Linked DNA regions of Homo sapiens. The protein of the gene in region 2 purifies or fractionates together with the protein of the main gene of each other region. This does not show direct contact. Each region holds a gene or a part of one and is shown on either strand. Other genes may lie near its edges. The genes, in order: FASTKD1, ARHGAP23, DLAT, SRFBP1 and ASF1B.

Region 1 (4,987 bases), on a different chromosome or scaffold from region 2:
GCCTCCCAAAGTTCTGGGATTACAGGCATGAGCCACCATGCCCAGCCCCTTGCCTTTTTTTTAAAAAAAATACACTTATGTGGCTGGGTGCAGTGGCTCATGCCTGTAATCCCAGCACTTTGGGAGGCTGAGGTGGGAGGATTGCTTAAGCCCAGGAGTTTGAGACCAGCCCTGGCAACATAGCAAGACTCTGTTTCTACAAAAAAAAAAAAAAAAAAAAAAAAGAATTGATCATTCTTAATTGATGTAAAAATCTTTGCATCTTTTTTCTTTTTCAGTTCCTTGTCTGTCTTGATGGTCAACATATCTTCTTTAATATCACGACATTTTCAACAACAACTGGTGAACAAAACAGAACTTCTTTTTGACACCATAGATTCTTCTGAGGTCAACGTTGCAAAAAGCATAGCAAAGTTTCTTCGAAATGTTAGATATCGTTATCAACCACTATTAGAAAGATGTAATAACGTATTTTTAAGTAATGTGGACCACCTTGATTTGGATTCCATCAGTAAAATACTTAGTGTATACAAATTTCTACAATTTAATAGTTTTGAATTTATTATAATGGCTAAAAAGAAGCTAACTGAAATGATTCCTCTGTGTAATCATCCTGCTAGCTTTGTAAAATTGTTTGTAGCATTGGGACCCATTGCAGGACCTGAAGAAAAGAAACAGTAAGTTCAGTTTAAAATGCATTACTTTTTTTGTTGTGAATACGTGGAGCCTTCAAGCTTAGGTCTCCTTGCAGCTCTGGAAGGTACAAATATCACCCTATTAGGTTGTGGAAGGGAAAATAATCTCTTATGCTCTGCTCCTTGATTCTTTTTCTGATTATTCTAATTTACATCTCAAACTCTTAGTCTGTTGCTGTGTTCTGAAAGGTAAACCTCTGATACTGGGCCAACATGAAAAAAAATGAGGGGAAACGCCATGTGTTTTTATTCTCCCTTTTGTGCTACATGACTGGATTTACACATATAAGACTCCCCCACCCAGTGTAAGTCTGTGGAATATTTAGAATTATAGTAGTCATAGCAGAGGGCCATTTTATGCTTTGCTGTCTTCATCACAATAATCATCAAAGCATTTATTATGCACTGGGCATATGTTCCCATGTCAGGTTTGAGCAAATTTTGTGTGGCGCCTCTCATTTAGGAATTTCCAGTTTTGCTAGATACTGATGTAGGTAGTAATATTTGAAATATAATGATGAGCAAATATTAAATTAACATACAAATACGGTTAATAGATAAGAGTTTCTCTTCCTAGGCCATGTGACTGGATTTATACTAGACATAAACTTCCCCCACCCAGCATAATTGTATGAAATATTTAGAATTACAAGCTGGGCACGGCGTTGCACGCCTTTAATCCCATCACTTTGGGAGGCCGAGGCAGGTGGATCCCTGGATCCCAGGAATTTGAGACCAGCCTAGGCAAGATGATGAAACCTTGTCTGTACAAAAAAATACAAAATTAGCCAGATGTGGTGGTGCCCACCTAGATTCCCAGCTACTCATGAGGATCACCTGAGCCCAAGGAGGTTGAGCCTGCAGTGAACTGACATTGCGCCATTGAATTCCAGCCTGGGCACAGAATGAAACCTTGTCTCAAAAGAAAAAATAAAAGAAAAAAATAAGAATTTTATATAATAGTCCTAACACATAAGTATGATTAGTAGATTCACTTAAGCAGGGGTTCCAAGACTTGCACAATAGGGGAATCTGTATCATTACTCTGTTAGGGAAAACTTTACGGAGAAAGTTTTATTTTTTAAGAGTACTTTGTGGCTGGGTGCGGTGGATCATGCCTGTAATCCCAGCACTTTGGGAGGCCAAGGCAGGTGGATCACCTGAGGTCGGGAGTTCAAGACCACCCAGACCAACATGGAGGAACCCCGTCTCTACTAAAAATACAAGATAAGTCGGGCATGATGGCAGCGCCTGTAGTCCCAGCTACTCGGGAGGCTGAGGCAGGAGAATCGCTTGAACCCGGGAGGTGCAGGTTGCAGTAAGCCAAGATCGCGCCATTACACTCCAGCCTGGGCAACAAGAGCGAAACTCTGACTCAAAAAAAAAAAAAAAGTACTTTGAATTATATGAAAAAATTTAAGAGCACATCTTAAGACTATATCAAGATGGAAACAAGGTGATTATTAAAAAAAACTATTGGGGCCCAGCACGGTGGTTCACACCTGTAATCTCAGCACTTTGGGAGGCCAATGCTGGCAGATCACTTGAAGTCGGGAGTTTGAGACCAGCCTGGCCAACATGGTGAAACCCCGACTCTACTAAAAATACAAAAAAAAAGGGCCGGGTGTGGTGGCTCATGCCTGTTATCCCAGCACCTTGGGAGGCTGAGGCGGTTGGATCACTTGAGGTCAGGAGTTCGAGACCAGCCTGGCCAACATGGTGAAACCCCGTTTCTAGTAAAAATATAAAAAATTAGCCGGGCGTGGTGGTGGGCACCTGTAATCTCAGCTACTTGGGAGGCTGAGGCAGGAGAATCGCTTGAACCTGGGAGACTGAGGTTGCAGTGAGCCAGGATTGCGCCATTGCACTCCAGCCTGGGCAACAGGAGCGAAACTCTGTCTCAAAAAACAAACAAAAAAATACAAAAAATAATTAGCCGGGAGTGATGGCAGGTGCAATGGTGGGCATCTCTAATCCCAGCTACTCTGGAGGCTGAGGCAGGAGAATCGCTTGAACCTGGGAGGCGGAGGTTGCAGTGAGCTATCATGCTCCTGCACTCCAGCCTGGGCAACAGAGTGAGACTCCATCTCAAAACAGACGAAGAAACACACACACGAACAAACTTTATTGGAACCGTTTTTTGTCACCAAGTACTGTTAAAATCTCAGTGCTAAAGCAATAAAACAGTTGGGTTTAACTGAGTCTGTCTTCAAGGAATTTATATTGCAATTGAGAGGATAGATATAATTGAAATATGTAAATACTGTAACAACATAGTTTATGAAGAAACAATAAAATTAGTGATATGGATAGTGCTGTGAGCAGACAGAAGTGAGAGAAAAATATAGACTGAAGTGGTTGGGAAAAGTTTGTGGAGAAACTGGGTTTGAAACCTTTGAAAAGGTTGGTGGAAAGGATGGCATGGAGTTATCCATGTGAATAGACAATTAGTTTATCCTATCAGATGTCACGTTTCGAGCTTGCTTTCTAAATGATTCTAAAAAATACACGTATCATGGTACTTAACATTACTGCACTACTTTGGATAGTTCAAATGACAACTAATCATAGTCAAAATGGACCAGCTTTGTTAATTTTCAGTTTATACTGTTATATCAAGTGCTTAGTATATGAGATTTCTGATAATATGCAGGTTTATTGACTCCTAGATGTTCCTATTCAGTTTTAAAACATTTGGGAAATTGTCAGAATATCAACTGTTCATTTCTTAGCTCTCTAGTATTGAATAATTTCACTGAATCATAGTATTTTATAACCATTATAACCTTGTATTATTTGAAAATCTTAAAATATCTTTTACCTGTATTTTTCAAACAGTTTAAGATTGGATTATAATGAGGCCTGAATTTCATTGAAGAAGACAATATATTTTTCTTTATTCAGTAATATTTTATATTCGAGTAATGTGGGGAGAACACTAGAATTATATATTGGATTCAGTTTTTGTTTATATTTTTTTTCCTATTTGTTACCCAAGAACTGTTATTTAAAAAAAATTGCAAGCTAATTTTCAGTCTTTCAACCAAAAACTTTTTTTTTTTTGCTTCTAGACTTAAATCAACTATGTTATTGATGTCAGAGGACCTAACTGGCGAGCAAGCCCTGGCAGTGTTGGGAGCAATGGGAGATATGGAAAGCAGAAACTCATGTCTGATTAAAAGGTATCTTTTCTGAAATTTACGACGTTAAGTTTGTTGTCATTCACAAGCACCTATTTTTTTCTAAGGAAAAATGGTTTTCTTCTTTAATCTACCAGTTGTTTTGAAGAAATAAGGAATTAATGCTTAAGCCACTGTTTATGTTCTACTTTGTTTTTCTTTTCTTTTTTTTTTTGTTTTTTTGAGACAGAGTCTCACTCTGTTGCCCAGGCTGGAGTGCAGTGGCACTATCTCTGCTTACTGCAACCTCTGCTTCCCTGGTTCAAGCAATTCTCTTGCCTCAGCCTCCTGAGTAGCTGGGACTACAGGCGCCCACCACCATGCCCCAGCTAATTTTGTTTGTTTGTTTGTTTGTTTGTTTTTGAGACAGAGTCTTGCTCTGTTGCCCAGGCTTGAGTGCAGTGGTGCCATCTCGGCTCACTGCAACCTCTGCCCCAGACGGGTTCAAGCGATTCTCCTGTCTCAGCCTCCTGAGTAGCCCGGATTACAGGCGTGTGCCACCACGCCTGGCTAATTTTTGTATTTTTTAGTAGAAGCGGGGTTTCACTGTGTTGGCCAGGCTGGTCTGGAGCTCCTGACCTCAAGTGATCCACCCACCTCAACCTCCCAGAGTGCTGGGATTACAGGCCTGAGCCACCGCACCCAGCCCTCCAGGCTGGTCTTGAACTCCTGACCTCAAGTGATCCGTTCACTTCGGCATCCCAAAGTGTTGAGCCACTGTGCCTGGCCGTTTTTTTTTTTGTTTTTTTTTTTTGAGACAGGGTATGGCTCTGTTGCTGAGGCTAGAGTGCAGTGGTGCCATCACAACTCACTGCACCCTCCACCTCCCAGGCTCAATTGATCCTCTCATCTCAGCCTCCTGAGTACCTGGGACTACAGGCACGTGTCGCCATGCCCACTAATTTTTGTATTTTTTGTAGACATGGTGTTTTGCCATGTTACCCAGGCTGGTCTCCAACTCCTGGGCTCAAGGAATCCATCCGCCTCAGCCTCCCAAAGTGCTGGTTTGTTTTTCAAAGTAGAAATGACAATTGTTTATAGCTTTTTCATTTTATTTGTGCTATTACACTCAAGCAGAGCATCATAACCTTGTAAAATAGAGAGCATAAAGAC
Region 2 (3,698 bases):
GGGGCGGGCAGGATCCTGTGTGCACCAAAGGCAGGGAGCCCGGGGGCGCAAAGTGGGGACCAGGGTGGGGATAGGGGGACAGAAGTCGCTACTGGAAACACCTTGGGACAATGACTGCACACACAAGCCCCTCCCCCCATGGACATACGCACCCTACACCTCCTCTCCCCAGACATACACACATCCCCGCTTACAAGCTGAGGTGGGAGGGCAGAAGAAAGAAGCAAAAAGCCAGCATCACCCAGGATCTTTCCTTTAGTCTGAAACTTAGGGGTTCCCTAGCCACACCCCATGGTCCACAAGGGTCCCCAAGTGCAGCCACAGAAAGGCTCAGAAGGACCTATCGGGCGCATGTGTGCAGGGACACAGACCCCAGCAGCCCACGCCCCCTCCTCTTCTGCTCATCACCTCTGGAACCCCCTTCCATTCAATTAGTCCGGCCCCAGCCTTCTCCTCTGCCCTGCCAGTTCCAGCACACCAACTAGAGACACTGCCTGCTGCGCCCTCCACCCACACCATGCACCCAGGGGCCACAGAAGAGGAGGTGCAGGCTGGTGAAGCCTCCTGGTTCCAAAGGGGCTCTAGGGAGGGGTGGCGCCCGAGCGGCGCGGGAGGTGGGGATCACAGACACTGATGCAGGCGGGAGGCGGCCGAGCGGCGCGGGGGCTGGCTCTGCAGGGACCCCGTGTCCCCGGGCGCGGGCGGCTGCGAGGCAGCGGACGACGGGGCCCGCGCCTTGGTGGACTCCAGGCTGCTGAGTCCGGAGTCCTTGTTGTCACTGTGCGCCCGCGCGCCCGCAGGCTCCGGGGGGCCCCCTCCGCCCAGCTCCTTCCACTCGTTGAAGTTGAGGTCAGTCAGCGGGCTCTGCACCACCACGGTGTGGCGGCGCCAGCTGCTCCGGCGCCGCCGGGTCTCGGGCGACAGCGGCCGCCGCAGGCGCACGGCGAGCATGTCGTCCGCCGTGCCGCGGAGCCTTAGACGCAGCGCCTCCATGCGCGAGGGCCGGGAGGCCAGCGCCGCCGCCGGGGGCCGCAGCGACTCCTGGCTGCTGGACGACGCCGAGCCGGGCGGCTCCGGGGCGCGGGGACCGCCCCGGCCCGCGCCCTCGCCGTCTGGGCGGCCCCGGGCCAGGCGGCGGCGCGCCAGAGTGTCGCAGGGCATGAGGTGGTGCGAGCTGAAGGACGGCCGGCGTGTCAGGCGCCCCCCAGGCCCCGCGCCCGCCGCGCCCTCAGTGTCCGTCTCCACGTGGCTCAGCTCGCTACGCTCGTCGTCCGCCTCATCCCCCGCCCCTGCCCGCCGACCGCTAGCGCCCGAGCACACGCTGCGGTCCATGGTGGACAGGGTGGAGTAGCCCGACACAATGGAGCGCGTGTCCGCGGCCGGCCGCTCCTCCGGCGCCGCCGGGGGACTGAGGCGTCCGGGGGCCTCGGGGGCGACGGCGCCAGGCAGCGGCCCCTGCGGCCGCTCCTGAGTCCCCGGCGCTGTGGCCCCCGCCCCAGGCTTGTGCGCCTCCTGCTCCGAGTCGTCGTCGGTGCTGCTGCCCAGCCCCCGCGCCTCCCGCCGCTTCTTGCGCTTGCGGTTGACGGCCGAGATGAAGGAGATCGCCAGCATCTCCCGGGCGTACGGCTCCTTCTTGGGGGCCCACGAACCCTGTGTGGGAGACAGGTCAGGATGCGGGGGGCGCCCGGACTCGGCCCCCTGCCGACCCCGCTCTACCCGGTCCACCCCCACGTCACGGCACCCAGTCGCCACAAGCCCCAGCCAAGGCCAGCACCCACGGCCGCATCATAAAACGCTCCTCCTCCAGCCCCGTGCCGCCCTCCGTCCAGAGACTACCCCCGCTGGCCCAAATCTAGGCTCTCAGCTCTTTCTTGTGAGGTGGGCTGGTCTCCCAAAGCCCCCTTCCATTCTGTTTTCCGTATCCAGCCCTGGCTAAATCCTTTAGACACGGCTCTGGTGATGACAATCTCTCCACAGTGAATAACGCTTGGCAGCCTGAATCCGTTTCACACACGCCCCTGGGGTGTCATCACCAGAGCTTCCTGCATGCTGATCCCCAAATCCCCGCCAGGGGCGCTCTCTGACCACAAGTCCCCCACCTCCTCTCCACCCGCTGCCACCTGGAAACCTGCCTTCCCACCTGCCCAGCATCTACAGGCCTCTCCAGGGCAACCCGCCCAAGTTCACGTCCTCCCCTTTCCGCCGGACCCCACCAGCTCCCCACCCCGCCAATCCCCAATCCCAGGTCAATCCCGCCGCCAGCTCCGCCCCTGCAAGTGGCTGAAAGATCCCGTATGGTGTCATGGTTTGGATTGGAGCCGCTCCCAAACTGTGATTTCCAACCCCAAGTTGGGCAACTTCATGCCGCTGTTCTCACCTGAACCAGCCCTCACTGCTACACCCTGTGGTGTTTTGGGGCCTTGGCCTTTCACACTTTCCCAGGAGGGCCCATGCTGCCGCCCATGGCCTTCTGGAAGCTGGTTTTCATCCGCCCTTCTGGCCTCTCCTCTGCCTCTTGGGAGGTTCTTCTTGCCCGCCCCCCGCCCCGCCCCTGCCTTCCCCTGCCTTCCCCACTGAGACTCAGTGTTCCCAGGACTGTTTTTGGCCCCTTTGCCTTCTCTGTTCGTGTTCCCTAGAAAATACCATTCCCAAGCAGCGCTGCTATCCAGGCCTCCCTGTCCAACACCACACTCACTTGAGCTCCGGGACTCTTCTTCCCATTGAGAATCCATTTCTACCTGGGTGTCTGTAGGCTCTTAAAACTCACCTATCCGGAACCACAGCATCCTACCTACCCCTGCCCCAAACTGCCTCCATTCACACTGCTCACCTTAGGGCGGTCTTGTGACTCCTCCCTCTCTCCTCCACCCACAGCCAAGTCCTGGATTCTTTTGAAATGGCTCCCAAAGCCAACTCCTCCTCCTCCTCCGGCAGGCCCTCATTCTGCCCTCTCTGGGCCCTCCTGCCCCTCCTAATAGGGTTTCCTGCCTCCACCCTTGCCCCAGCCCGGGTCTCTCCTCCAGAGCCACCATTCTGAAGCAGGAATCTGATCCTCACCCAGCTTTGCTCAGAAGCTTGCATGCCCCAGCACCCACCAGGATAAAGCACAAGTTCCCCAGTTCAGCACATGGGGCTCTTCATAACCCAGCCCCAACTTTCCCAGCCTACTGCCCTGCTCTGCCCTGACCCCAACCCCAACACAGCCCTCACTGTGGAAATACAGCCCTACCAACCCTTCCTTTGATGTGACCTACACTGTTACATTGCTGCCAGCCCTTAATGTCCCCCTGCCCTATTTGCTGGATGAGCTCCTACTCACCCTACAAGGCCCAGCTCGAACATGGCTTCCTCTGTACAGCCACTTCCCAGCCCTCCCTTTGCCTGAGATGGGAGATCACTTCTCTATGTTCCTGTCATCTCACTATGCTCCTAGCTCTTCTCACATCAGCCTCATCAAACTCTGAGCTCCTTAAGAGCAAAGGCTGTGACTTGGTTGTTTCTGCATGGCACATAACAGGTGCTCAATAAACATGAAATGAACAAACAATTGGTGAATGAAGTCCCCTTAACACAGGAAGCCTTGTAGAAGCAGACGCTGGGACTGGTTCCTGTCTTGGGCTGGAATGACCTGACAAGGTCACGCTGCCCTTTCAACCCCTCCTCACAGACCACCTCTTGTTTCAGCCATGGTGTAATAA
Region 3 (4,987 bases), on a different chromosome or scaffold from region 2:
TGGAGTGCAGTGGCGCAGTCTCAGCTCACTGCAAGCTCCACCTCCTGGGTTCACGCCATTCTCCTGCCTCAGCCTCCCGAGTAGCTGGGACTACAGGTGCCCGCTGCCACGCCTGGCTAATTTTTTGTATTTTTAGTAGAGATGGGGTTTCACTGTGTTAGCCAGGATGGCCTTGATCTCCTGACCTCGTGATCCACCTGTCTTGGCCTCCCAAAGCGCTGGGATTACAGGCGTGAGCCATGGCGATTTGTAGTATTATGAATTTCTTCTCTCTGCACCCCCGCTTTTTCTTTTTTTTTTTTGAGACAGAGTTTTGCTCTGTCACCCAGGCTTGAGTACAGTGGTGCGATCTTGGCTTACTGCAGCCTCCGCCTCCTGGGTTCAAGCAATTCTCCTGCCTCAGCCTCCCGAGTAGCTGGGACTACAGGCATGCACCACCATGCCTGGCTAATTTTTTGCATTTTTAGTAGAGATGGAGTTTCACCATGTTGGCCAGGCTGGTCTCGAGCTCTTTAACCTCAGGTGATCTGCCTGCCTCGGCCTCCCAAAGTGCTGGGATTACAGGCATAAGCCACCGCACCCAGCCTCTCTGCTTCATAATCACCACCAAAGGGAAGCCTTTCCCAAAGATGTAATGGGAGGTACTGGGCATCCTCTGCCTTGGTTGTTTTCAGATTGTGTTCTTCAAATCCCATCATTCCTTTAAGGCACCTTGAGGCAAAGGGGGAATTAAAGAGCAGGACCTTACAGCCCTGCCTCCCTGCCTTACTTCCAGCAGAGCAGTTCTTTTCTATCTTTTTGTATTTTGTGCTTCCCCATAAATTTTATTTGAAGAAAGGATTCTGTTTCTTAAAAACACAGAAACTTTGGAAACAGTAGTTCTGCTTCACCATTTAACTTGAATACCAGTGTCACTATAGAGACTAGTCACTAGAGAAGTGTTACCTTGGTTGAACTTTGAAGTCTATTGTGGCCCAGGAGCCTTTTCATTTTAAACACTTCTTTTTTTTTTTTTTGGAAACAGAGTCTGGCTCTGTTGTCCAGGCTGGAGTGCGGTGGCGTGATCTCGGCCCACCACAACCTCTGCCTCCTGGGTTCAAGCGATTCTCCTGCCTGAGCCTCCTGAGTAGCTGGGACTACAGGTGCATGCCACTACGCCCGGCTAATTTTTGTATTTTTAGTAGAAATGTGGTTTCACTATGTGGGCCAGGCTGGTCTTGAACTCCTGACCTCGTGATCTGACTGCCTTGTGCCTCCCAAAGTGCTGGGATTACAGGCGTGAGCCACCACCGCACCCAGCCTTTTTTTTTTTTTTTTTTGAGATAGAGTCTTGCTTTGTCGCCCAGGCTGGAGTGCAATGGCATGATCTTGGCTCACTGCAATTTCCACCTCCCGGGTTCAAGCAATTCTCCTGCCTCAGCTGCCCAAGTAGCTGGGATTACAGGCGCCTGCCACCATGCCTGGCTAATTTTTGTATTTTTAGTGGAGATGGGGTTTCACCATGTTGGCCAGGCTGGTCTTGAACTCCTGACCTCAGGTAATCCACCTACCTTGGCCTCCCAAAGTGCTGGGATAACAGGCGTGAGCCACCGTGCCCAGCCTTAAACATATATATATATATCTCCAGACTTAAACATATATATATGTGTGTGTATATATATATATGTGTGTGTATATATGTGTGTGTGTGTGTGTGTGTGTGTGTGTGTGTGTTTTTTTTTTTTTTTTTTTTTTTTTTTTTGAGACGGAGTTTCGCTCTTGTTGCCCAGGCTGGAGTGCAATGGCACGATCTCGGCTCACCACAACCTCCACCTCCTGGGTTCAAGTGATTTTCTTGCCTCAGCCTCCCGAGTAGCTGGGATTACAGGCATGCGCCACCATGCCTGGCTAATTTTGTATTTTTAGTAGAGACGGGGTTTCTCCACGTTGGTCAGGCTGGTCTCGAACTCCCGACCTCAGGTGATCCACCCGCCTCGGTCTCCCAAAGTGCTGGGATTACAGGCATGAGCCGCCGCGCCCAGCCTAAACATATTTTTTATTGGGTATTCTCAGCTGGGAAATGGAAGGATTCATCAAAGATGTGTTCATCAAGGAGAGGCACAACAGTACAGAAAGCCAATGGCTTCTTTTAGTTTTACTTTTGCAATCCTAAATGTTTAAGTTCTTTGCAAGGAAGGCAGTAGTTGAATAAAATATAAGTTGTCAACACCATAGAAATCCCAGTAAAGCTGTAATTCTTTACATTGAAATACTTGGTATAATATCAAGTATAACCTCTTTGAAAAGTTCCAAAGATGCTTTTAGGGCTGAAATCCAACATTAGTATCTAGGTTGGTAGCTCCCTTAATTAGGCATGTATGTGGTTCTTATCTTTAGCAGCATAGCTGACACCATCTTAGAGTCCTGTGAGTCTGCATGGGGACTGTCCTTGGAGATTTTTTAATAACTTTGAGAACTAACCACTGTCTGTAATCTTTCATAGTTTTATTGAACAGATTTTTATTTGGCATTTACTTTGTACCAGGTTGTATTATTTCTAAGAACTTGAAAAATATTAATCTGTTTAAATGTATAACATCCCAGTACCAATCCAGTGAGATTGGTACTATTATTATCCCCGTATTGTAGGTAAAGAAACCAAGACACAGAAGGTTAAATAGGTTGCAAAAAAGGCTATATAGCTAGCTTGAATGAGAAAAATCACTTTACTTAAAACTGTGCTGTGAGTTTGGAGGGATAGTGGAATCTCTTAAGTCCCATAATGTTTTTTCTTTCTATTTAAGGTTTTGAAGTACAGGAAGAAGGTTATCTGGCAAAAATCCTGGTCCCTGAAGGCACAAGAGATGTCCCTCTAGGAACCCCACTCTGTATCATTGTAGAAAAAGAGGCAGATATATCAGCATTTGCTGACTATAGGCCAACCGAAGTAACAGATTTAAAACCACAAGTGCCACCACCTACCCCACCCCCGGTAGGTATGCTTCTAGAATTCAGGAAACACTTACCTTGTTCATCTCTAAATTAAGGAGTTTTGATTAGATGATATCCTAGGTTCCTTCCACCTCCAAGATTCTATGACTGAGGAGGGAGATAGTTTATTAACATTTGTGGAGACCTATAGTGTTTGTTGTACTGCACTGTTCACCTAATGGTTGATAGTTTGGGCCTTGTAGCTTTTTTCTTCCTGCTATCTAGAGTCCTGCTGAGAACAAAGCTGAGTGACATGTTCTCTTTCTGCTTTAGATACAGATACCATGCTTGTGGAAAGTAAGGCTTCATTGCCCCACCCTTTTTTTTTTTTTTTAAGAGACAAGGTCTCACCCTGTTGCTGAGGCTGGAGTGCAGTGGTGCAATCATAGCTCACTTCATTGCCCATTTATTATTAAATATACTGAATAATCTCTGTCACTTGAAATCCTCTTGTTATTGACTTAGTAGGTCAAGCATATATTTGTGATACAGTGGAACCTTGACATGACTTGTTTTGCCTAGAATTTATTATATCACCAAATACTTGATACACTATATAACTATAACCTGAACTTGTATAACTCCAACCAGAGATAACACTGACAGTGAAGCTTCAGTGATTCTCACAGATGCTAGAATCATGTGAGTTTAAACTAGGTAAACATTTCTATAAGAGAAAAGTTGATTTCTGACTACTGTACATTTGTGGGAAGCTGGCAAGTAGCATTGTTGTTGGATTTCTTTTGTTGTTGTTGTTGAGACGGAGTCTTGCTCCGTCACCCAGGCTGGCGTGCAGTGGCGTGATCTTGGCTCACTGCAGCCTATGCCTCCCGGGTTCAAGCAATTCTCCTGCCTCGACCTCCCGAGTAGCTGGGATTACAGGTGTTAGCCACCATGCCCGGCTAATTTTTTTATTTTTAGTAGAGAAGGGGTTTCACCGTGTTGGCCAGGCTGGTCACGAACTCCTGACCTCAGGTGATCCACCCACCTCGGCCTCCCAAAGTGCTGGGATTACAGGTGTGAGCCACCACACCTGGCCGTATTTCTTAAGATACTTTTCAACATGGGGCCTTACAGCATAATTTTATATTTTGAAATTAGCTGGCTGGGTGTGGTGGCTCATGCCAGTAATCCCAGCACTTTGGGAGGCTGAGGCAGGTGGATCGCTTGAGGTCAGGAGTTCAAGACCAGCCTGGCCAACATGGTGAAACCCCATCTCTACTGAAAATACAAAAAATTAGCTGGGCGTGGTGGTGCGTGCCTTTAATCCCAGCTACTTGGGAGGCTGAGGCAGGAGAATTGCTTGAACCCAGGAGGCGGAGGTTGCAGTGAGCCAAGTTTGCGCCACTGCACTCCAGCCTGGGTGACAGAGCAAGACTCTGTCTCAAATAAAAAGAAAAAAAAAAAAGAAGTTAGGATAATTAAAAATAAAAATCATGTTGGTGATGTAAAAGAATGCGAATAAAGAAGTGGTAAGAGATTAAAGTGAAGAAAGGCTGTAGAATACTATACACTGATTGGCAATATTCAATTCTGTGCTTCATGTTGTTATGGAATAAGGTAACTGTTCTGTCTTTGATATAGAAGTATATTGTTCTCGCTGTTCGTATTACTACATTATGTTGGTTAAGCTGGCGAAAAGTACATTATGATCTTTGGAAAAATGAAAGTTATTAATATTTAATTAAAATAGTTTTAATTTATTAATAAGATGTAAACTTTTAATCTTTCAGACCAGTCTTTGAAGTGGTGAATTAAAACAATTTGTAATTTTTTTTCAAAAGGTGGCCGCTGTTCCTCCAACTCCCCAGCCTTTAGCTCCTACACCTTCAGCACCCTGCCCAGCTACTCCTGCTGGACCAAAGGGAAGGGTGTTTGTTAGCCCTCTTGCAAAGAAGTTGGCAGTAGAGAAAGGGATTGATCTTACACAAGTAAAAGGTAAATCTGTTTCTATAGAATGGACTTTATAAAGTTAAAATTTAGTTGAATTTCCTCCTTAAGACTTGCAAGTACAACT
Region 4 (3,864 bases), on a different chromosome or scaffold from region 2:
TTGCCATTTTCCAACATATGGGTTTGGTTAGTAAATTGAGGTGTGTTTTGGGAGTGGGGGAAATGGACAGTGTAGGATAGTGGCGTGTTTGTTATTTAGAGATTTATTACGCTTTTCTAAAAAGAAATGAAGTGATTATCCATTACACTATAAGTCTAAAATTAATGCTTTGCCTGGCTACATATCGTAATGTATTTTTTGCAGGGGTACTGAAGATGCACTGTTAAAAAACCAAAGACGGGCGCAAAGATTGCTTGAAGAAATCCATGCCATGAAGGTAAGGACTTGTGTGGGTGTGTATGTGTGTATGTTTCTGAGTATCCTGTTATCCTGCATTTTGTTTGTGTGTGGTATTGCTTATTTGAATATTCCCGAGAGTTGCGTAAGACATCTTGTATCAGTCTGTTTGGTGAAGAATGTAGCACATTTAGAAAATTGTAACATTTAAGCTTGCATTTTTCTGTTTTTGACTGAATTTGTTAAAGTGCTAGGCTAATTTGAGTCAAAATTGTGCCAAACTAAATTCATCTATGTTTAATAATGCCTCCTGCCTCAGGTTTTTATTTTTACTGTAACTTTAGCACGAAGTCAGTTCAAGAATTAAAGTCTTCATGCTATTTGGGAATGTGGATGGTGATATTGGTGGCTGACATCATGCTTTCCTTGTTGCCAGCTCAATAAATTTTTATGTATTGGTATCGGCATTTTATTCAGTTCTGTAGTAACTTCAAATAAAATTAGTGTTAGACCAATGTGATCCCATATTTTTGTTTTTTTTTTCAGTCAGACTCTTCACTAGCATAATTTTTAGGTCTTCTTGCTGCTCTTACTTTGAGGAAACTTTCATTTACCAAATGACATGACATTAAATGTCTGGGAGACTGTTTTACTGTAGAACTTAAAAACAACATTTGGTCCCAGCAATTTTCTTAATTGCAGGGTCATTTTGCATGCATGTTTGCCTATTATATTTTGGTATAACTTTCAAGTTTTGAATTAAGTAAAAGAGAAATAAAACTCTCTAACTATTTTAATTGAGTTAAGTTATCAAAGATTCTCAGCCTTTCTTCCTTTTAAACGGATAGTAAAGTGTTTAATAGGACAAAGTTATCCCAGTTAATCTGAATAAAAACATCTAGGAAACGACTCTTTGATATGAAGTATATTTGTTTCTTGTGTTCTTCCTTCCCTCTGCTGCACACTATTATAAAATTCATGGAATCCATCTGATATAACTTTTATTTCTCAAGGTTATAATTCCCTTTTTATTCAGTCCTTCAGGAAAAAAAAGTCTTCTGTATTTGACTGTCAGTGATCATTTGTGTCTCTGTGGTTTGCAGATTATTTAGTTTTTTCATATACCTTTTTAAAATGATATTCCTATGAGAAATAAAATCTTTAGAGATTTTGTCTTGAGAATAGCAATAAAATAGGAAGTTACAATTTATCTCTTTCACTTTCTCTTAACCAAGGTTCTTACTAAATTACATTGCCTACCTAAATTTTTCCCTGTAATTTCTTCTGAATAGTCATTTTTGTAGTCTTAAATTATTCAGAGGCTTTGAGCTACTATATAATTGCTGATTTTATTTTACCATGGAAAGAATGCAGTGTGTGTGTGTATGCATGTATATATATATATAATATATATATGTGCATACACATACACATACAATGTATAGTTGGCTACTCTGACTTTAACTTCTTTTGTAATACTGTTTAAAAACTGGAGTAAACTGGAATTTGTTAAATTTTTTATATATATAAAAAATATATACATACACACACACTACATTCTTTCCATGGTTTGTTATATATAATAACTTGTATGTGGTGTATGAAGAGTTTGAGAACAAAAGATACTCAATCTTTAGAATACTTCCCTTTTGTAAATTTCAGTGATACATTTGATTAATTAGAAAGAAAAGTTGTCCTTTTTGATCTAAATGTAAAGCCTGTTTTCTGTTTCTTGTTTTGAATCTCATCAGCAAAGGGAAATCTGATTCAGTGATAAAGTTTGTAGGTTTACAAGATTACCACATCACTATCGTGGTTTGGTTTGGTTTGGTTTGGTTTGATTTGTGTTCTATTTTTCCCTGTGATTGCGCAATGGAATGGTTGCATCATAGAAAGCCAAATTCATAGCCTATGTATTCCTTAAATTCATAAAATTCATAGTATATATATGTCTTGAGTTTGTGGCAGGAGTTAGGGCAGGCTGGGTTGGCTACTCTGACTTCAACTTCTTTTGTAATGCTTTTTAAAAACTGGAATGAATTTAAATATAAAATGAATACTAGAAAGACTATATATTTGCTGTTCTTACGTGTCAAATTTTATTCCTTATTTATGGTTCTTTTACAAATTTTGTTGTCTTTTCTAAACAAAGCAAATAAATAAAGCATTTTTCTTAATTAAAAGGTCATTTGTAATTTTCTTAGGAAATGGTTATTACCTACTTGGGAGTATCAAATAAATGATGACAAAACAAACTCTCAATCTCAATTAAATTTGGAGAAAAGACCTCTGCTCATTTATTTTTCCAGAGAAATTTTTTCCTTGGCTCAGACACTGCTTCATTTTTATAGTCTTATTGATGACATACTATCCTATTCTTGCTTTCTATAATAATAGGGTATTTTGTTGCAGGATGACTTCTTTGTGAAGAAATCATGAGTATTTTTAGAAATGAGAGTTTGCTTTTTCTGGCCAACTAAGAAAAAAAATTGGCTTGATCTTTACACTATAAAATCATAGGTTCTAATTTTATAGACTATGGTGTATGAAACCCAAGTCTTTGCTGCCTTTTCTATAATAGTGTCCATACTTTTAACTTTGATATTAGTAGAAATATTGCCTTCTAAAACAGTTTCTTTTTCTTTGAAAGTTAGTTAAATTAGCCTATCAACACTTATAGATCAGTAAGTTACTTAACTGGAGAAGGAGATGGTAAAATTCAAGCATATACTGAAATTACTCAAAATGTGCAACAAGTCTCTTACTCAATAATAAAAGTAACAACTAGCTTTTACTGAGCATTTACTATGTGCCAGGCATTATATTATGTGTTTTATATTTACTGTCTCACTAGGTAGATATCATTTTTATCCCTGTCTTACAGAATAAGAAACTCAAGCTTAGAGAAACTGAGCAACTTATAACTGATTATAAAGCTAATTATGTTATCCACTGTAGTATACTGCTTCAGTAAGTTGAGAACATCCTATGATATATCCAGACTCACTTTCCTAGATATTGGAGGAGATAATTTAGTAAACATGAAACTTGCCATCTAGGAAAAAAAAGACTGAAAGATGTGCAACGTGTTTTCAGATCCTTTAATTCCTGACAGGTAAATATACACAGTAGCCTATATCTGTATTTCTTTTTTTTTTACTTGAGATGGAGTCTCTCTCTGTCGCCCATGCTGGAGTGCAGTGACCCGATCTCTGCTCACTGTAACCTCCGCCTCCTGGGTTCAAATGATTCTCCTGCCACAGTCTCCTGAGTAACTGGGACTACAGTTGCCTGCCATCATGCCTGGCTAACTTTTGTATTTTTAGTAGAGACAAGGTGTTGCCATGTTGGCCAGGCTGGTCTCGAACGCCTGACCTCAGGTGATCCGCCCACCTCGGCCTCCCATAGTACTGGGATTACAGGCGTGAGCAACCACTCCTGGCCTATCTGTATTCTTTTTTAACCTCTTCCTCTCTTAAGGCTGTTACTTCTTCCTATCCTGAATATTCTTTAAGATGAGAATTTATGTATTCTTCTTTGAGACCTTGTTCTGCCTGCTACCTCTTACTTCTCCTCTAGTTTAAAACTTTCTCCTTTTGTTCTATTCTTCCCCTAGTTTTACATTCT
Region 5 (4,987 bases), on a different chromosome or scaffold from region 2:
TCATCTTGGGGTTACAAATAAACTTAGCAGGTAGGTGAACTTGCACATATGGAACCCATGAATAATGAGGATGGACTGTAACTCCTAAATGGCTCTCATGCAGCACCCCACCTGGGTTGTCAAATGTAGATTCTGGCCGGGTGTGGTGGCTTCCAGCACTTTGGGAGGCAGAGGCGGGAGGACTGCTTAAGGCCAGGAGTTCCAGACTAGCCTGGGCCACATAGCGAGACCCCCATCTCTACAAAAAATAGAAAAATTAGCCGGGTGTGGTGGCTTGCACCTGTCGTCCCAGCTACTTGGGAGGCTGAAGCAGGAGGCTTGCTTGAGCCTGAGAGTTTGAGGCTACAGCGAGCTATGATTGCACCTCTGCACTGCATTCTGGGTGACAGCGAGACCTGTCTCTACAAAAAAAACATTAACCAGGCATAGTGATGCAGGCCTGTAGTGCCAGCTACTAGGGAGGCTGAAGCAGAAGACTCACTTGAGGCCAGGTGCCATGGCTCACACCTGTAATCTCAACACTTTGGGAGGCTGGGGCAGGCAGATCACTTGGGGTCAGGAGTTAAAGACTAGCCTGGCCAACATGGTGAAACCCTGTCTCTACTAAAAAATACAAAAATTAGCTGGATGTGGTGGTGCACATTTGTTATCCTAGCTACTCGGGAGGCTGAGGCACGAGAATTATTTGAATCCAGGGGGCGGAAGTTACAGTGAGCTGAGATTGCGCCACTGCACTCGAGCCTGGGCAACAGAGTGAGACCCTGTCTCTAAAAAAAAAAAAAAAAAAAAATAGGCTCGCTTGAGCCCAGGAGTTCCAGGAGTTTACAGTGATCTGTGATTGCACCACTGCACTCCAGTCTGGATGACAGAGGGAAAAGCTATCTCTTTAAAAAAAGAAGGCCGGTGCAGTGGCTCACGCCTGTAATCCCAGCACTTTGGAAGGCCAAGGTGGGCGGATCACAAGGTCAGGAGATTGAGACCATCTTGGCTAACATGGTGAAGCCCCATCTCTACTAAAAAATACAAGAAATTAGCCAGGCCTGGTGGCGGGCACCTGTAGTCTCAGCTACTCAGGAGGCTGAGGCAGGAGAATGGCGTGAACCTGGGAGGCGGAGCTTGCAGTGAGCCGAGATCACGCCACTGCACTCCAGCCTGGGTGACAGTGAGACTCCATCTCAAAAAAAAAAAAAAAAAAAAAGAAGAAAGAAAAAACAAATGGAGATTCTGAGTTCTCCAGGTGATTTTTCAGGATCCTCTGCTCGGATACACTCCCTTACCTCCATCACTGCTGTTACCGCCCTAATCCAAGCTACCACATCCTATCTAACCCCTTCAGCCACCACTACTAAATCCACTGACAGGCCCTATCTACTCAACAGTCAGGACTGGCCTCCTGGGTGTGCAACCCAGGCAGCTGCACAGGACCCCACACTTGGTGCGATACTCTGCTGTCACCGTCTGAAACCTAATAGCTTTTCTGGAGGGGCGTGGTGTTTTCATTTTGCATTGGTTTTATTTTGCACCAATTACGTGGCTGGTCTTGTTTGCAGTAGTACACCCTGAATCTGTTCTTTACTGCCTGGTCTAAGCCAAGTCCACTGCCTCTCCAGGATGACTGGTGTAAGCCTTCTGCTCCACTACAGTCTCCTGTCACGGCTCCACACTTTGCCAGAGGCTTCTTTTCAGATCACAAGAGTGATGTGGCACTTAACCTCCTGCTTACTCTCTTGCCCTTTCCCAATCCCTTAGCTGGCCCCCGGGTGGCCTGATACCACCTGCCTCACCTGTTCAGCTTCATGCCACTGTCCCCCGGCTCACCACACTCCTCCAGAGTACCACGCACCTCTCCCTGCCACAGTCAACGTTTTGTAGTCATTTGTGGGATTGATTCTGTGTTTCCATCAGTTGACAACTCCTGGCTGGGCACAGTGACTCACACCTGTAATCCCAGCCCTTTGGGAGGCTGAGGTGAGAGGATCGCTTGAGCCCAGGAGTTTGAGACCAGCCTGGGCAACATGGAGAAACCCTGTCTCTACAAAAAATAATTGGCTAGACATGTTGGCACACACCGTTGTCCCAGCTATTTGGGAGGCTGAAGCAGGAGGATTGCTTGAGCCCAGGAGTTCAAGGATGCAGTGAGCCATGATGGCGCCATTGCACTCCAGCCTGGGTAACAGAGGGAGGCCAGACCCTGTGTAAAAAAAAAAAAAGTCCAGGCGCAATGGCTCACACCTGTAATCCCAACACTTTGGGAGGCCGAGGTGGGCAGATCACCTGAAGTCAGGAGTTTAAGACCAGCCTGGCCAACATGGTGAAATCCCGTCTGTACTAAAAATACAAAAAAAAGGCTGGGCGCAGTGGCTCACACCTGTAATCCCAACACTTTAGGAGTCCAAGACGGGTGGATCACCTGAGGTCAGGAGTTCGAGACCAGCCTGGCCAACATGGCGAAACCCCATCTCTACTAAAAATACAAAAATTAGCCGGGCATGGTGGTGGGCACCTGTAATCCCAGCTACTCGGGAGGCTGAGGCAGGAGAATCGCTTGAACCCGTGAGGCGGAGGTTGCAGTGAGCCGAGATCGCACCATTGCACTTCAGCCTGGGCAACAGAGCAAAACTCCATTAAAAAAAAATACCAAAAAAAAAAAAAAGTTAGCCGGGTGTGGTGGTGTGTGCCTGTAGTCCCAGCTGCCTGGGATGCTGAGGCAGAATTGTTTGAACCCGAGAGGCAGAAGTAAAAAAAAGAAAACTGAGGGCAGAGAGCATACTTTTTGCTCAGTAAATACATGATGCTTGGGAATCTTTGTACTAATGACATCGAGGCATGGCTGTGGCACTGCTAAGGCCTAGGATGTGTCTCCCCTAGGCCGACGCCCCCAACCCATCCCTCATCCCAGAGACTGATGCCGTGGGTGTGACTGTGGTCCTCATCACCTGCACCTACCATGGACAGGAGTTCATCCGAGTGGGCTACTACGTCAACAACGAGTACCTCAACCCTGAGCTGCGTGAGAACCCGCCCATGAAGCCAGATTTCTCCCAGGTGGGGCCTGTTTCCACTTCCTGCTTCCCACAAGGCCGTTCTTTATACTTGGGGGGAGTTCAGCCATTCAAATTGAGAGTCAAGGTCACTTCTTAAGGTTTTCAAGTAATATTCAGTTCTTACAGTACTGTGTTAGAAGAGGAGAAAAAGACCTTTGTCTCTCAAAGGCATGTCTTAGAGAATTAAGATTAGGCCAGCCTGGGCAACATAGTGAGACCCTGTCCCTAACCCCCGCAAAAAAAAAAAAAAAAAAAAATGAGCCAGACATGGGTGGTGTGCTCTACTCTGGAGGCTGAGGTGGGAGGATCGCTTGAGCCCAGGAGTTTGAGGCTGCAGTGAGCTCAGATCGTGCCACTGCATTCCAGCCTGACCAACAGAGTGAGACTGTCCCTTAAAAAAAAAAAGTCCTGGGCCAGGCACAGTGGCTCACGCGTTGTAATCCCAGCACTTTGGGAGGCCGAGGCTGTAGGATCACCTGAGGTCAGGAGTTTGAGACCAGCCTGGCCAACATGGTGAAAGCCCGTCTCTACTAAAAATACGAAAATGAGCCAGGTATGGTGCCTTGCACCTGTAGTCCCAGCTACACAGGAGGCTGAGGCAAGAGAATCGCTTGAACCCGGAAGGCAGAGGTTGCAGTGAGACGAGATCACAGCATTGCACTCCAGCCTGGGCAACAAAAGCAAAACTCCGTCTCAAAAAATAAATAAATAAATAAATAAATAAGGTCCTGGCCACAGGTGTTTTCTGGAGTTCCATATGTAGGTTGCTCTTGCTGGGCTTGAGATGGGTGATTGGGGGTGTCCTGGCTCTATGGGACCAAGGAGAGGGCGTACCTACAAGGGTTGACGTTCCTCTTCCTGCCCCAGCTCCAGCGGAACATCTTGGCCTCGAACCCCCGGGTGACCCGCTTCCATATCAACTGGGACAACAACATGGACAGGCTGGAGGCCATAGAGACCCAGGACCCCTCCCTGGGCTGCGGCCTCCCACTCAACTGCACTCCTATCAAGGGCTTGGGGCTCCCTGGCTGCATCCCTGGCCTCCTCCCTGAGAACTCCATGGACTGCATCTAACTGCAGGAACCCAGAGTGTCCCAGCACGCCGGGAGGGGCAACCAGGCCTCCCAGCGAGTCCTGCAGGGCCCATCTAGAGGACTTTGGGGGCCATCAGCTGCAATCCAGGTCTGTCAAACTCAGCCCCTAGGAAAGAACAGGCCTTGGGTCTCCCCTAGTCCTGGCCAGAAGGATGATCTCGCTTTTCCTCTACAGGCCTATAAGAAGCAGGTACTTCAGTTCTAAATTCTGACTTGTGTTCTTTTCGTCTTCATAAATTCTAACTAAGGCCACTGTGCCACTGTGCACCCTTGAGTACCATTGATCCAAAGCTTTCCCACAGACCTCCCTGGCCCACCTAGAGGCTTTCTTGGTCAGTGCCTGTCAAGGCTCCAGTCCTGCTGAGCCAAAGGCTTTGTCATTCCTTTCTCTTCCTGTACATCTGAGCAGACCCACTCCAGCTTTCTGGTGTCACAGGCGGGAATGTTAGTTAGTAGGTAGACTTAGATCCCATTTCTGTCCTGCTCCCAGGAAGATTCTTAGGTCCTCTTCAATCCAGCAGCCCCTCCCAGAGGTGTGATCAGCAGGATGCTGAGGAACCATGTTGCCTTTCCTGTCAATCACAGCCACCTTCCTGTTATCTCCTAAATGGATCTGGCTTTTCCTGGAGGCTGCCATGGTTGGAAGATGGTATCAGAGGGCCTGCCTGGGCAGTCTGTCTCCGGGCCAGGGTCAGGGACCCTCTGCCTCTGGCAGCCTTAACCTGTCCTCTGCTAGGACCAGGGTGATTTCAAGCCAGGGAAGCAACTGGGACCCTGAAAACTGTCCCTCCCCAGCCCGCTCCCCCTCTCTGTGCCCTGGTCCCCTTGCTGCCATGTGGATGCTGTTGT

The links.
Region 1: the proteins of ARHGAP23 (region 2) and FASTKD1 purify together in Homo sapiens (affinity purification with mass spectrometry; one large-scale study listed by BioGRID and IntAct). This does not show direct contact.
Region 3: the proteins of ARHGAP23 (region 2) and DLAT purify together in Homo sapiens (affinity purification with mass spectrometry; one large-scale study listed by BioGRID and IntAct). This does not show direct contact.
Region 4: the proteins of ARHGAP23 (region 2) and SRFBP1 purify together in Homo sapiens (affinity purification with mass spectrometry; one large-scale study listed by BioGRID and IntAct). This does not show direct contact.
Region 5: the proteins of ARHGAP23 (region 2) and ASF1B purify together in Homo sapiens (co-immunoprecipitation; one large-scale study listed by IntAct). This does not show direct contact.

The regions. Positions count from the first base shown.
Region 1 is NC_000002.12:169,556,077-169,561,063, reverse strand, and holds part of FASTKD1 (FAST kinase domain-containing protein 1, mitochondrial), read left to right. Parts: intron 1-278; coding exon 279-677; intron 678-683; exon of another isoform or gene 684-2,140; coding exon of another isoform or gene 2,141-2,151; intron 2,152-3,766; coding exon 3,767-3,877; intron 3,878-4,987. UniProt on the Homo sapiens protein: Involved in the down-regulation of mitochondrial MT-ND3 mRNA levels which leads to decreased respiratory complex I abundance and activity.
Region 2 is NC_000017.11:38,507,896-38,511,593, reverse strand, and holds part of ARHGAP23 (rho GTPase-activating protein 23), read right to left. Parts: intron 1,651-3,698; coding exon 622-1,650; 3' UTR 1-621.
Region 3 is NC_000011.10:112,034,490-112,039,476, forward strand, and holds part of DLAT (dihydrolipoyllysine-residue acetyltransferase component of pyruvate dehydrogenase complex, mitochondrial isoform 2 precursor), read left to right. Parts: intron 1-2,783; coding exon 2,784-2,971; intron 2,972-4,754; coding exon 4,755-4,908; intron 4,909-4,987.
Region 4 is NC_000005.10:121,975,111-121,978,974, forward strand, and holds part of SRFBP1 (serum response factor-binding protein 1), read left to right. Parts: intron 1-204; coding exon 205-277; intron 278-3,864. UniProt on the Homo sapiens protein: May be involved in regulating transcriptional activation of cardiac genes during the aging process. May play a role in biosynthesis and/or processing of SLC2A4 in adipose cells.
Region 5 is NC_000019.10:14,119,590-14,124,576, reverse strand, and holds part of ASF1B (histone chaperone ASF1B), read left to right. Parts: intron 1-2,868; coding exon 2,869-3,045; intron 3,046-3,911; coding exon 3,912-4,118; 3' UTR 4,119-4,987. UniProt on the Homo sapiens protein: Histone chaperone that facilitates histone deposition and histone exchange and removal during nucleosome assembly and disassembly. Cooperates with chromatin assembly factor 1 (CAF-1) to promote replication-dependent chromatin assembly.